Linked DNA regions of Homo sapiens. The protein of the gene in region 1 interacts with the protein of each later gene in a pairwise test. Each region holds a gene or a part of one and is shown in the gene's direction. Other genes may lie near its edges.

What was found.
Region 2: the proteins of AGPAT3 (region 1) and FAM133A interact in binary tests that used the Homo sapiens proteins (3 or more experiments, as listed by UniProt).

What each region holds. Positions count from the first base shown.
Region 1 is NC_000021.9:43,959,074-43,966,910, forward strand, and holds part of AGPAT3 (1-acyl-sn-glycerol-3-phosphate acyltransferase gamma), read left to right. Parts: intron 1-560; coding exon of another isoform or gene 561-608; coding exon 609-786; intron 787-1,558; exon of another isoform or gene 1,559-1,706; intron 1,707-7,837. UniProt on the Homo sapiens protein: Converts 1-acyl-sn-glycerol-3-phosphate (lysophosphatidic acid or LPA) into 1,2-diacyl-sn-glycerol-3-phosphate (phosphatidic acid or PA) by incorporating an acyl moiety at the sn-2 position of the glycerol backbone.
Region 2 is NC_000023.11:93,704,596-93,712,432, forward strand, and holds the end of FAM133A (protein FAM133A), read left to right. Parts: intron 1-850; exon of another isoform or gene 851-3,679; intron 3,680-4,721; 5' UTR 4,722-4,824; coding exon 4,825-5,571; 3' UTR 5,572-7,670; downstream 7,671-7,837.

The sequences.
Region 1 (7,837 bases):
GTGGTTTGTGGTGTGTGTGTGTCATGTGTGTGGTTTGCAGTGTGTGTGTGTGGCATGTGTTTGGTTTGCGGTATGTGTGTGGCGTGTGTGGTGTGTGTGGTTTGCAGTGTGTGTGGCGTGTGTGGTGTGTGATGTGTGGCATGTGGGGTTTGTGATGTGGTGTGTGTGTGGTGTGTGGTTTGCGGTGTGTGTGGCATGTGTGTGGCATGTGTGGGGTTTGTGATGAGCTGTGGTGTGTGGCGTGTGTGTGGTTGTGTGTGTGTGGCGTGTGTGTGGTATGTGTGTGGCATGTGTGGTTTGTGGTGTGTGTGTGACGTGTGGTTTGCAGTGGTGTGTGTGTGGTTTGTGGTGTGTGGCGTGTGTGTGGTTTGCAGTGTGGTGTGTGTGGCATGTGTGTGGTTTGTATGTGTGTGGCACGTGTGTGGGGTTTGCAGTGTGCTGTGCAGCATGTGTGTATAAGCGTGAGGCATGTGCGGGGTGTGCAGTGAGCAGTGCCCCGGTGTTCCTGTGAGGGTGTGGGCGTGGCCACCCTGACGCTGTCCCTGTCCCTGTCTTTGCAGGACGGCTGTCCTCAGCGAGGGGCCGTGCACCCGCTCCTGAGCAGCGCCATGGGCCTGCTGGCCTTCCTGAAGACCCAGTTCGTGCTGCACCTGCTGGTCGGCTTTGTCTTCGTGGTGAGTGGTCTGGTCATCAACTTCGTCCAGCTGTGCACGCTGGCGCTCTGGCCGGTCAGCAAGCAGCTCTACCGCCGCCTCAACTGCCGCCTCGCCTACTCACTCTGGAGCCGTGAGTGTCTGCTGGGCCAGTCCCTGCCGCCTGGGGCTCCCGTGGGGGTGGCGCGCGACCATGCACGGGGCAGCCGTGGGCTCTCAGGCAGGAAGTGAGGGCTATGCAGGAGGTGCCGAGGCCATCTGGCTGGCAGGCTGTCGGAAGGCACCTGGCTACCTCTTTTTCTTAGCTTGAGCTGTGTGACGTGCCACTCTCACCATTCTGACCCATAGCAATGGCAGCTTCCCACGGTTTACCAGAGCATATGGGAATGTTTAAACAAAAGTAAAGAGAATGTTGAGTTCTGTTTACCCGTTACCAAGCTCCAACAGCTCCCTACATGGCCCCTCGTGTGTCCTGCCCACACTGCGCCAACACCAGAGCATGCTGACGCGTATTTCAGCATGCATCCCTGAAAGAAAAGGTGTCCTGCCTCCCTGCGTATCAAACACATGTGTAGCTGTGTGTCTGTCCGTATGTGCCTCTGTGCGTATGTGTATTATACATAGAGAAACCGATCTGTACCTGTCATGTGGACAGAGACTCAGAGGCTTGGTAACAACACCCACTGTGGACAGGTAACCGCTCACACCGGGCGTCGTGGGGACATGAACAGGCGCATCTCTGGAGGGTGGTTTGGCAGTGGCCGTCAACAGTTTAAGTGGTTGCAATTTTCAACTCAGCAATTCCACAGAATAACATGCAACCTACAGAGATGTGCAAAAGTATGCAACTGGACAGGTGTTCTCATTTTATCACAGGTATTCTCATTATTGTATTATTTTTATAGTAGCACAAAACTAGAAGCAACCCAAGCACCTGTCACTGGAGACTAATTATGCGGCACCCATACAGGGACCCTCTGCGGCCATCATGGAGAGCCTTCATCTTGCCCGTACAGTTTTAAGCGAAAAAGGAAGTATACAACAAAGTCCATAGTATGCTATGATTCATTTTGTGTCTTAAGAAAGGATGCTGTGTGTGTGGTGTGTACATGTGTGGAAAAATCCCAGAAGGGGCTGGGCATGGTGGCTCATGCCTGTAATCCCAGCACTTTGAGAGGCTGAGGCAGGTGGATCACCTGAGGTCAGGAGTTCAAGGCCAGCCTGAGCAACATGGTGAAACCCTGTCTCTACTAAAAATACAAAATTAGCTGAGCATGGTGGTACACACCTGTAATCCCAGCTACTCGGGAGGCTGAGGCAGGAGAACTGCTTGAACCTGGGAGGTGGAGGCTGCAGTGAGCTGAGATCACACCACTGCACCACTCCAGCCTGGGCAACAGAGCAAGACTCTGTCTAAAAAAAAAAAAAAAGAAAACAAAAATCTCAGAAGGATGCCCGAGAAAACTGCGTGATGCTGATATCCAGGGAGTGGGGAAAGGAGGGGATTCTTACGTTTTATTTCACACTCTCATGCTGTTTCCATGTTTTTGCATGAGCGCATAGACACTTCGTCTCATATGGGAAACGGTGAGCGCATAGACACTTTGTCTCGTGGGAAACGGTAAGCGCGTAGACACTTTGTCTCACGTGAGAAATGGTGAACCCACATACACTTTGTCTCATATGGGAAACGGTGAGCGCATAGACACTTTGTCTCATGTGGGAAAGGGTGAGCACGTAGACACTTTGTCTCATATGGAAAACAGTGAACGCGTAGACACTTTGTCTCGTGGGAAACGGTGAGCGCGTATACACTTTGTCTCATATGGAAAACAGTGAGCGCGTAGACACTTTGTCTCGTGGGAAATGGTGAACCCACATACACTTTGTCTCATATGGGAAACGGTGAGCGCGTATACGCTTTGTCTCATGTGGGAAATGGTGAGCGCATAGATACTTTGTCTCATGTGGGAAATGGTGAACCCACATACACTTTGTCTCATATGGAAAACGGTGAGCGCGTATACACTTTGTCTCATGTAGGAAATGGTGAGCGCATAGACACTTTGTCTCATATGGGAAATGGCTGGCCTGTAACCTTGTCTGCACGATCTCCTTCCAGTTCAGGAGCCGGTAGCACTGCTGAAAAGGCTGTTTATGTCAGCTAACTTTTCATGCCTGCGACACCCCACTGTCTGCAGAGAGACTAGTAACCCAGCCCTTAGACTAGCTTGTCTTAAATGTGTTATAGCTTCAGTTCCTGGTTTGTTTTTTCTCTTTTTTTTTTTTTTTGAGACTGAGTCTCGCTCTGTTGCCCAGGCTGGAGTGCAGTGGTGCGATCTCGGCTCACTGCAAGCTCTGCCTCCTGGGTTCACGCCATTCTCCTGCCTCAGCCTCCCGAGTAGCTGGGACTACAGGCACCCGCCACCACTCCTGGCTAATTTTTTTTGTATTTTTAGTAGAGACGGGGTTTCACTGTGTTAGCCAGGATGGTTTTGATCTCCTGACCTCGTGATCTGCCCACCTCGGCCTCCGAAAGTGCTGGGATTACAGGCGTGAGCCACCGCGCCCGGCCAGTTTGTTTCCTTTTTTAAATGAAAGGCTGCTGCTTTTTTCTGTGGGAAGGGAGAATTGGAAATCCTATAATATAAAATATACAAATGAGTTATTCATGAGTATAACTGGATAAGATGAATACATACAAAAAGGGCAAATATTAACTGATGAAAACTAAATTACAGACTCCTACTTTCTAGCAGTATTCTGAAGCTAAAATACTACAAAACAGCTAAATCCTGCCTGAAACTGGCTTTTTAATGCATTTCTGGGCTCACAGTAAGGAAACAAAAACCTCTCAGCTCCACCCTTCCACCAAATCCCTTTAGCAAAAACCGGGGTGTGCAGAAATGGAATGTCAGCACTGCCTTTCAGGAGCCTAACCCTTGGGCAGCTGTAGCAGAGGGCGCTGAAGCTAAACCAGGACTCTTGAGCGAGGGCGCGAGACAAGCTAGGGTTAACAGTGACCCTTGGGTTTCAGCAGAGGCAAACGAAAGTACACTCTGGAGAAAGTCTCATTCAGGCCTGAAGAATCCCACAGATTAAGGAAAATTAAATATGAATTCATAATCAAGAATGACAACGTAAACAGCAGATGTGGACTGAAGATGACCCACTGTGCCCCGACTTGAAAGAGAACCAAGTAGAACTGCTCTCAGTGAGAACTGTAGATATTTTAAAGCAAAAACTTACAGACAGGTTTTGTATCAGATTAGATACAGTTAATGAGAATGGGTACAGAACCAAGTAGAACTGCTCTCAGTGAAAACTGTAGATATTTTAAAGCAAAACCGTATGGATGGATTTTGTATCAGATTAGACACAGTTAATGAGAGAATGGGTACACCAGACATCAATGTGAAGAAATCATCCAGTGACAGTAAAGGAGGTGAAAAATGTGAAATAGGCGTGAAAAGATGTAAGGACAGAATGAGAACCTTCATAAAATAGGGCTTTGGCCCCCATCCCCAAAGGAGAGAACAGGAGAAGCCTCCTGGGAAGAGAGGATGCCTGAGGACCTCCTGAACTGATGAAGGCACGATTTTTCAGATACAGGAAGCACATGTAGACCAAGCAGAGCGAATGCACAGAAATCCACACCTAGGCAGGCCCTGGGGCATCACAGACCATCAGAGACAAGGAGGAGCCGGGCGCGGTGGCTCACGCCTCTAATCCCAGCATTCCAGGAAGCTGAGGCAGGAGGATCCCCTGAGGTCAGGAGTTTGAGACCAGCCTGGCCAACATGGTGAAACCCCATCTCTACTAAAAATATAAAAATTAGCTGGGCCTGGTGGCACATGTCTAATCCCAGCTACTGGGGTGGCTGAGGCAGGGGAATCATTTGAACCTGGTCGGTGGAGGTTGCAGTGAGCCGAGACTGCATCACTGCACTCCAGCCTGGGTGACAGAGTGAGACTCTGTCTCAAAAAAAAAAAAAAAAAAAAAAAGATAAGGAAGTCTTCGAATCCCCGGAGAGGAAAGCTGGAGAACCACGCTGGATGGTCAGCAGTGAGGCCGACAGCAGATTTCTTACGGCAGGCAGCAGTGGCGGGAGAAGGTGGAAGATCCTCAATGTGCTGGAAAATCACCAACCTAGCACCCTGTGTTGTTCAAGAGTACAAATAAAATAAAAAGGTTTTGGTAAACAAAAAAATGAGAGCTTTTACTGCCCATAGATCTTCACTTCAATATTTTTTAAGGATGTGTTTCAGTAAGAACAAAAATTATAAAAGTAGGGTATAATTTTCAAGAAAGAATGGTAGCCAAAGAAATTAGGAGATGGATGAATCTAAACCGTATGTAAAATAAAAACAGTGCTCAGCCGGGCGCAGTGGGTCACGCCTGTAATCCCAGCACTTTGGGAGGCCAAGGTGGGCGGATCACCTGAGGTCAGGAGTTCAAGACCAGCCTGGTCAACATGGTGAAACCCCATCTCTACTAAAAATACAAAAATTAGCCTGGCATGGTGGTGGGCACCTGTGATCCCAGCTCCTCAGGAGGCAGAGGCAGGAGAATCGCTTGACCCTGGGAGGTGGAGGTTGCAGTGAGGTGAGACTGCACCACGCTCAGCTAATTTTTTGTTTTGTATTTTTATTAGAGATGGGGTTTCACCATGTTGCCCAGACTGGTCTCAAACTCCTGACCTCAGGTGATCCGCCCACCTCGGCCTCCCAAAGTGCTGGGATTACAGGCGGGAGCGCCCAGCCCAGGTTCAGATTTTAATGGTAACTTTGTTAAGTATAGGGTAGGAAAAAAGAGAGATCAAACATAGCTTCCAAAGTATTAGAAAAAGATAAAGAAAAAAAGGTAAATCTCTTTTGTTAATGCAAGAAAGTAGAAAGAAAAGCATTAAAATAAGAAATATTGAGGTATACATTAAGATCAATATAAAATTCCCAGATACTTGGGATGACCACAAATACACAAGAAAAGCACTTCAGTAAGAACAGAAATAATCGGCCTCTCCATCTGCTGGGCTTGCGTGGGTATGTGAATTCCGTCTGTGACTTGTTGGATTTGGGATGTTCTCCACTTAGATTTATTTCCATGAATATGTTTGTGGGAGCCTTTCTGCAGTCAGAGGTATGTGGAAGCCTTTGCCAGTTCAGGGGCGCATGGTGAGAGCAGACCTCACAGTGGGTTTGTTTATGTTTGTTTGTTTTTGAGACAGGGTCTTGCTCTGTCGCCCAGGCTGGAGTGCAGTGGTGTGATCTTGGCTCACTGCAATCTCTGCCTCCTGGGCTCAAGCAGTCCTCCTACCTCAGCCTCCTTGAGTAGCTGAGACCACAGGTGTGCACCATCATGCCCAGCTAATTTTTGTATTTTTTGTAGAGACAGGGTTTTGCCATGTTGCCCAGACTGGTCTCCAACTCCTAGGCTCATGTGATCCTCCTGCCTCAGCCTGCTGGGCTGCTGGGATTACAGGCTGAGCCACCGCACCAGCCACAGTGTTTTCTGATGACCCTGAACCACGGTTTTATTTTCAATTCTTCATTCCTGTTCTCATTCCTTAATGCTGGGTGCCTTCTTGCTGCCCATTTTGAACTCACTGCCAGTGTGTCTCTGCTGTCATCTGATGTGCAGAGCTATAGGTGCTGCGGCGAAGGGTGCAGGTTTGGAGCCGTTTAAACAACCTGGCCCAGCCTCCTCACTCCCTGCTGACCTTGGTCAAGGCTTCAGTCTCTAAACCTCAGCTTTCTCATCTGCAGAGCACAGACAAAACCACCTGCCTTTGAGCTGTCTTATAAAGCCTAAATCAATGCGCACAGCAGGTACACAGCAATGCTTGATAAATTGTTACTATTATTGGGTGAATTTTAGGTTTTTTTTGTTGTTGTTGTTGTTTTGAGACAGAGTCTCTCTGTTGTCCTGGCTGGAGCACAGCAGTGCGATCTTGGCTCACTGCAACCTCCATCTTCTGAGGTTCAAGTGATTCTCGTGCCCCAGCCTCCCAAGTAGCTGGGATTACAGGTGCCTGCCACCACATCCAGCTAATTTTTTTTATTTTTAAGTAGAGATGGGCTTTTGCCATGCTTCCCCAGCTGGTCTTGAACTCCTGGCCTCAAGTGATCCTCCTGTCTCGGCCTCCCAAAGTGCTGGGATTACAGGCTTGAGCCACCGCACCCGTCCAGAATTTTAGATTTTTTTAAATCCGTGGTTGAAAAATAGGCTATGGCTGGCTTACTCATTGTGCTTTAGGGAAGCATGTATTTGAGTGAAGGAAATGATAAAAGGAATTTCATATCGGGCCCAGGCGCCGCCCACCCTGCAAGACAGTTTACAGATGCCTGCCCTGACAGCTGTCTGCAGTTAGCCAGCGTCAGCCGAGGGGTCCTGAGATCCGCTGAAGGCTGCCTTTGCATGCCGACAGCAAGGGAAAAGTGCCACATGTCCCTGGGCTTGCCACAGGTGACCTTTGGATGGGACCATTCTCCAGACAGCGCAGCTCGTCTTTCCAGAACACTCATGGGGAGTGTGCCTGTGTCTGGCTGGCTGTGTGGGCTCCCATTCAGTTCATTCCCCTTCTCCAGCCTTTAGGCATGACCCTAAAGGCAGAGGTCTCAAGCACTTGCCAGGGGTGAGCCAGCGGTGGGGGCGCCCCTGCCAGGGCAGGCCTGCTGTGGGGGCTTGGTCAGCGAGTCTTCTCCCCACACGCAGGATTTCCTCCCGTCCACTGCCTCTGCCCACAGGTGACCTTTCTCTTTTAAAGGAATTGGGGTCCCTTGGTACCCCCACAAACCCTGAGTTCCCTCTCTCCTTTCTGCGTCCTTTCTGCTCGCCTGCATGTGCCTGCAGCATCATGACCGCTGGGAAGACACTTCCCTGCACCTGCACGCTGTCTGCAGGCGTCTCTGGCCATCCTGGGCTGAGCTGCGTGATCTCGGGTAGCGGCCCTTTGTTCACCCGTGCAGGATGTCTTTGGAATTGGTCTCTAGTGTCCTTTATAAATAACTGGTATAAAAGAACCCCGGGCAATGGCCTTGCAGAAAGCCCACACTTCAGAGCTGGGCTGGTGTCCAGCGCGAGAAGCCTGAGGCCGTCCTGAGCTGGAAGCCGCGTCCTGGTTCTGTGGGGCCATCCTTCCCGGACAACTGGCTGGGGGGCACAAGACTCTGGTGGCCGACAAG
Region 2 (7,837 bases), on another chromosome or scaffold:
CATTTGTAATCTTTAAATGATTTAGAGGTAGCCTTTAAAATAACTAGTTTTAGTGATATTTGTGGTAGAAACTACATTGTGAAACATTTAAATATCTTTTCAGTGATCTTACATTTATATTGACATTTACCTAAGTATGTTTCATAACAGATGGTATAATCACTTTCAAAAAGGAGAAATTGAGATGATTACTAGTTTATAAAAGTAATATGAATATTTTGTACTGTATTCAGCTTTTCCTTTGTACCTCAAGGCCTTAGCATCTGATATTCCTTCTGATTGGGGCATTCAAACAATTTTGGCTCTTTTATTACTCCCATCCTGTTTAACTGCTTTTTCTGGCTAGCTCTGGTTTATACCACAGGTCTCAGATGATATGTCAGTGTCTCAGATGATATGTCAGTATCTCAGACTTGACCTTCCCTTCTGAATTAGGTCTCTGTTTCTTTCATAGCATCCTGTACTTTTCCTTCATCTCCCCAGTCATGATTATGATTATATACTCATTTGTTTCATATTTGTGTAATAACTATTACCTTTACTAAACTGTAATATCCATTGCATAGTATCTTGGCACATAATAGATTATCAAAAGGGAATTGTAAGAATCAATGAACAAATATTATTATAATATCCAGATTACTAGCATGATTGTCACAATTTATATCTAACCTTTACAGGATTTTAGCATATTTCATGAAAATAAGTAGATGTACAGAAAATCAAGTTACTCTTTGTTCTATAATAGAAACAGAGAAGATAAGCCACAGTGCTTTTAAAACAGAGTATTTGAGCAAGAGACTTTGTTGGTGTTACTTTTTCTCTTTTCTCAATTTGATTTATCTTCTAGGAAAGGATCATACAGATTCTTCAGTTCAGAAGAACTCCAGCAACACTTACATGGTGACAACACCCTCTCCCATTCTCTGTTGTTACTCCAAATTTTAATTACTGGTCTCAAAACTCCTGTCTTAATCTTAGCAGACAACCTTGGCACTTACCACTGAATGAAAATGAAGGCTATTATGTGAGAAATACTTCATCTTTCTCCCTTTTACCTCCTACCACCCTACAAAAAATCCTGCATCCATTCCCTGTCTTTATTCTTTGCCTCTGCTCTTGGGGGAAGAAATTCTTTCTATCTCTGAATTTAATTTCATTCCTTTCTGTTTTCTCTGTGATATTGCCACATTAGTTATTTCTTCTCTTACCTAGGTTTTTAAAACATGTTTTCTTTGTACTTTATCCTTCTAGATGCCCTATGAATATGCTCAAGTTTCTTTCATGTAAAAAAAAACACAAAAGAATTTTAACTCTGCATCTTTCATGGTTGCCTTCTTATCTCTTTACTTTCCGTATTGACTGTGACTATGTACTCTAGGTCTCTACATTCTCACCTTCAATTCAGTCTTTTAACCCACTGTCACCTGGCTTGTGCCTTCACCACTTAGCTGAGATTGCATTAGCAAAGGTTACTAATGACTTCTTGATAGCTAAGTATAATGGACATTTTCAGATCTGAACTTGACTGATCTTCTGCATTTAATACTGTTGTCTGTAACAAATCTTTTCTATTTTTATGAATTTTTCAAAGGTAAGGATAATACTTGTTTTTTGTAGAAAATTTAAACATTACAGAGTCATAAGGATTCTTATGCTCACCTTGAAACTTTATTCACCCTGTGTTTCTTGACTCTTTCTTTTCTGATACTGGTCCAGCTCTTACTACTCTGGCTAATTTCTTAATGCATACTTTGTAGGTTTTTCATTCACTGCCAACCCCTTGCATGTTGGTGTTCAGTTGGATCCAGTCTCAAACTTTTTTCCACTTGAAATTTCCCTGCAAAATAATTTAGTTTTCTCTCATGACCCTAGCTATCACTCAGCGACTGCCAGTTCAGTATTTCTAACTCAGATCACTTTCCAAAGTGCCAAATCCCATACATCCTCTTTCTTACATGGATAATTGTCCATAAATCTCATAGGCACTTCAAACTTCAGGAGTCCAAAATGGAAACTAGAACCTTTTCTCGAAGTCTGTGCCATTTTCTCTATTACCTAGTCATTGTCATTGCCTTTGGTCTAATGTGTCGAGCCAGAGCCTTACCCCAGATTTCTTTCTCTTTTTCATCCTTTGTATCCAATTTGTCACTAATTTCAATAGAATCTTCTCAACATGTCTCATATATTTCTCATTCTTTTCATTCACAGTGTTGCTGTTTGAGTTCAGACTCTTTCATTTCTTGTCTACATGAATTTTTAAGTGGTCCCATTGCCTTCTGTCTTAACCTGACTTCAATCCGTCTGTCACTGGGCAAATAATTGTCCTTAAACACTCAAATATGACCATATCATTTTTCTGCTTAAAATAGTGTCTCCCCGTTAGCTTCACTGTAAATCCCACAGGAGAGATTCCAACCACCTTAGCATACCACCCAAAGCCTTTGTTAACTGGCCTTCGCCTATCTTTCTAGCTGATGTCAGGACTAGGTCTCAAGGGACTGAAATTAGAATGGATTATTCTATTGTAAGTGTCAAGTAACAGAAAGAAGCTGCAAGTTGAATATGAACTGAAGTATTTAAGAGTTTTGAATGGTCAAATCAGAGACACAATGATATTTGAGACGTGGTTAGGGTAAGAGTAAGAATGAAAATTACAGAAAGACCTAAAAGGGCTGCCTATAAATAAAGAGGAAGGAGAATAAGATCAAGAACACAGAAAATAAGATGTTGGAAACTATCACCAAGAGTCACTGAAATGTCTATAGCATTGAGCTTATGATGGGTAGGTATGTTAGGTTGACTTAAAGGATCAGATTTAAGATGGAGATTGATAGAAAAATCTATTATATGTCTGATCGTCTTTCTCTTCTATATAAAAGACTTTATTGGCTCTTGTATCAACTATAGGACAAAATTCAAGATTTTCAAATGACCTAAGAGGGCCTCCATATTTAGGCTTCTTTTTATCTCTGCAAACTTACCTCCTTCCCCCTGCCCTCTTGATCTTTAGGTTCCATCAACTCTAAATACCTGCTGCTCTTTTCTCATGTTTCCTCTGCCAAGATTGTCCTTAATTTCCTCATTTTCTGGGTAAATGCCTGTTCATTCCTTAAGACCCTATACAGACATCACCATCTCCAGGACACTCCCTCTGAATCCTCCTTTCTCTCAGAGTTACCCATCCATCCATCCATGCATTTATTTATTTGTTTATTATTGAGAAAATATTTATTGAGTGCTTAATATGGATCAGATTCTATGTCAGGTAATGGGAACACCGTGGTGAATAAGATAGGCCACACATGACCTTTACCCTTCTTGGTCTTACATTTAGCAGTGGATACACATGTATAACGCAATAATCACAAATAAAATAATTACCAATTTCATAAATGCTACAAATAAAATAAACGATGAACTATCATACAGAAAAATGAGGATGAGGGGTAGACAGAGAGGCAAACCACTTTAGTATAAGGTTGAGCCATAAAAAGTTGTTGATCTTTAAACTGTTTGTGTCCCATAAAATAGTTTTACATAGTTTAACCTAATGGTTGACTTTCTGAGGAATTGACATTTAAGCTGAAACCTGAAGGATGAGGTGGAATTGGCCATGCTGGCTAAGCCTATAATTCGGCATGTTCCAGGAACCAAATGAAAAGAATTGAGAAAAAAGGTGAGTGAAACAAAACAAAAGTAAGAGACAGAAGTAGGGCAGATCATATAGGACCTTATAGGAGATTGGATTTGTTTTTCATTAAAATATAAAACCACTGGAGTTTTTTAAGATCCCTCTGTTTACAGTGTGGGACTAGAATAAAAGGGAGTAAGGTTGGAAAAATGCTACCTATTAAGAGGTTGATGTAAGGAGACAATTTGGTGTTGCCTTATTTGTGCAGCTTGGAATCAGGCTGCCTTTGTTTAAATCCTGGATATGCCATTTATTAGCCATGTTACTTCATGTTCAAATTTTGAGTTTTACTCTAATTCTCTAAGCCTCAGTTTATCTATCTGTGAAATAGAGACAATGATAGGATCAACTTCATAGGTCTGGCCTTGAGATTGAATGAGATAATCCATTGCAAACACTAAGCAGTCCTTGACAGAGAATAAACACTTACTAGGTACTAGAGATTAATAGCCCAAGCGAGAGATGATAGTGGCCTGGGCTAAGTTGATGACAGTATATTTGGAGACAAGTGAATGGATATGAGGCCTATTGTGGAGGTTTAAATATCAGGATTTAGTAATGTATTGGATTTGACCGTTGAGGGAGAAGGATTTCTCAGTTATGACTCCTGGGCTTCTGTCAAAAGGAATGGAGAGGGTTGTGTTGCACTTTCTTGAGTTGGCGAAGGTCTGTCTGGTACAGATTTTAGTTTTATAAATTTCTCTCTATATACTATATAAAGCAGGAATGAAAGAAAGGAAAAAGTTAAGTATCATACAATGTAAGAGAAAATGGCTATTAAATATTTTAGGTATCTGTCAGAATCTTACATGAGGTATATAAAACACTTTTAGTTTATATTATGTTTATACCACAGTGTCTATAATATGTAAAATTTTAAAATGTGTATATTGTTTGTTCCCATGGTATAAGATTTTGGAAATTTCTACTGTACTGTGTGATAGGCAGTGTTAACAATTAAGCTTATATGTTTGTTTGTCTTTATATTAAAGGTGATTTGTAATCATTCCATCTGCTTCTCTTACAGAATGGAGCTTGCTTGATATTTCACTAGATAAAGAATTTAAGGCGAGTATCTATCTTTGTTCTCCTTGGCAACTGAGAGTCTGCCCTTGGAAACATCAGGCACCATGGGGAAGCGGGATAATCGGGTAGCCTATATGAATCCTATAGCAATGGCCAGATGGAGAGGCCCAACTCAATCTGTGGGCCCAACAATCCAAGATTATCTAAATCGACCAAGACCCACCTGGGAAGAAGTAAAGAAACAATTAGAAAATAAAAAAACAGGTTCAAAAGCATTAGCTGAATTTGAAGAAAAAATGAATGAAAATTGGAAGAAAGAACTTGAAAAAAGCAGAGAGAAATTATTAAGTGGAAATGAGAGCTCATCTAAAAAAAGAGAAAGAAAGAAAAAGAGAAAGAAGAAATCTTGTCGGTCTTCATCTTCTTCATCAAGCTCTGATTCTTCAAGCAGTTCTTCAGATTCTGAGGATGAGGAAAAGAAACAAGGAAAAAGGAGAAAGAAAAAGAAGAACCGTTCATACAAATCATCCCAAAGCTCTACGCATGAATCAGAATCAGAGAGCAAGGAGTCTGTAAAAAAGAAAAAGAAGTCAAAGGATGAAACAGAGAAAGAAAAGGATGTAAGAAGCCTCAGCAAAAAAAGAAAGAAAAGTTACCCTGATGATAAACCTTTATCATCTGAGTCCTCATCTGAATCAGATTATGAAGAGGATGTGCAAGCAAAAAAGAAGAGAAGGTGTGAAGAGCGAGAACAAGCAAAGGAAAAAGTAAAGAAGAAGAAGAAGAAACAGCACAAGAAACATAGTAAGAAGAAGAAAAAGAAGTCTGGATCAAGTCACAAGTCAAGGTAACATCAAGAAAAAAAGCAAGAATGAGTTTGCCGAGTTCCCCTGTGTTAGTAGAATTATTTCTGGACTTTGAGTTGCCTATCAAATCCCACTGTGCCAGTAAGGGGCATAGTGGCTGCTGGCAACTTCAATATACATTTTTGTTTGTTTGCTTGTCCTTCCTTCTAATGGTTAATTCCTCTGAGAGCTAAAATTCTGTTGTCATACCAGTGAATAAAATGTTTGAAATTAAAGTAAAATGTGTTAGATAATGAATAACTTTGACAAAAAAAAGTGTATCTAAGGTTAAATGTATCTAATTCGAATACATCTTTGAAATATCACCATCAATGAAACATAAATGTAATTTCCAGACAATTGTAGTTGGTATTTTTGATGCAAGGACTTAATATTGATGTCTCAAATTCCTTGCTTTTGTAAATAAGTTTAGTTCATTTTCCTTTTTTCTTTAATGAATCTTTGTTTACATGGGGAAAGAGCATGTGGGGTGGGAAGGGCAAGTGTTTGCTAATCACTGTGGCTAGCTGAATAGTGTGCCTTTGACTCTTACACATCCTATTTTTGCCAGAGCAGCAGCCGTCCTTTTCTTACTTTATGAAATTCTGGGGTGTTGTATGCTGCTTCAAGTGAACAAGAAGGACAGGAGTTTACAGCATAAGTAAGCCCCCATATCTATGAAATTTACCTCTTCTTCAGCACTGTTTACTATACAGTACTGAATAATATTTAGTATTACAATATTACATGATTTGAAATAACTTTATACCCATTTTGTATGGGAACCATTCTAAACAGACCCTGATGTTGTTTGATTAAGAAATATTCTGAAATTTTTTTTGCATGTTTTATACTGTTAAGTTTTAATTATCTGACCATATTCTATATAACTGATGATCCTTTTTTAAGATATGATTTATGCTTAGGATATAAGTTTCAAGTTTTTAGTTTCTTAGCCTTGCTATATTAATTTCATTACTGTGTTTAATTGCACCCTTGCCAAAATATTTAGCATGTGAAAAGGTTTTTTTTAAAAAATATGTAATGCCTTCATATTGAAGCTGGTTACTGTACGCAAGTTGAGTGCCAGACCTCTAGTACGCCGTATGTTACATGAAACTACTGCCAAAATCTTAGTAAGATTGTTGTTGAAAAGATTGTTGTCTTAAGCATTAATATTGAATTTATATAGAAGTTAAATGTAGATGATAATGACATCATTGATCTTCCTGTGTCCGTATTTTCCTACAATTTGGTGCCTTGTATCTGTTGCTGATTCACTTTTACCACTAGTGTAAAAATAAGTGAAAAAATATTTTTACTTTACATTTTTATATATCAGAGTAACATAAATTATAAATTTGTGTCTCAAAACCACCTGTGATGGAGGATGTGCTAATTGTAATGTCATAGGTACAAAGTATTTTGGCATGATGAAAAGCTCAATAGCTATTGTTTTTCAATAGCAGATTTTATCTCGGCTACCTTCAATCACAAGTAAAATTATAAAGATAAAAAACATCTACATAAACATGTTGGCTGCCAAATTTTTTGCATTGGAAATACTGGAATCTCTCATTAAAGTTCTTGGAACATTATAGTGATGCCATGTTAGATTACCTTGGAGCTTCATAACTTTAGCTTTTTCCTAAAAATATATGTTTATGCTGATAAAAACTATTACATTTATGGGATATTTTGTATCCATATAGAGTTTTTCAGAATTGTTCATTAAAATGCTTTTTATAAGCTTATATTATTTGTAGAATATGGCAAAAGCATTTACAGCTCATCATGTATCTATCTGCTCCTGTTCACTTCCAAACCTCTTGTAGTTAGGCAATGCCATTTGACTACTTCAAGCAGAGGGATTGTAAACAGAAGTGATTTTCTATTTCCATGTTGGACTGTAAAAAGTTCTGCATGACCCTCCAGTTTTCTTTTGCCTGTCATGGTGACCTGAAAGCAAGATGTTCCAAATGGCATACTTACAAGACGGATGCAACCTGGGTCCTTAGGTCGCTGTTTAGAAGGGACCTGACTGGAGTGCTGATGGACTTGCAGTAAACTTTTTAAGTGTAAGAAATAAACTGTTATGTGTTAAACCACTGTGATTTGGGGTCTTTTTATTACTGCGGAATCACCTAACCTAATCTGACCAATAACATAGAACTCTAGAACATCTATTTCATTATTTACATAAAATAACTCACCTTCTTCTATCACATTCTTCTGTAGTCTACAGATTGACTCAGAAGTGATCATTATGCCA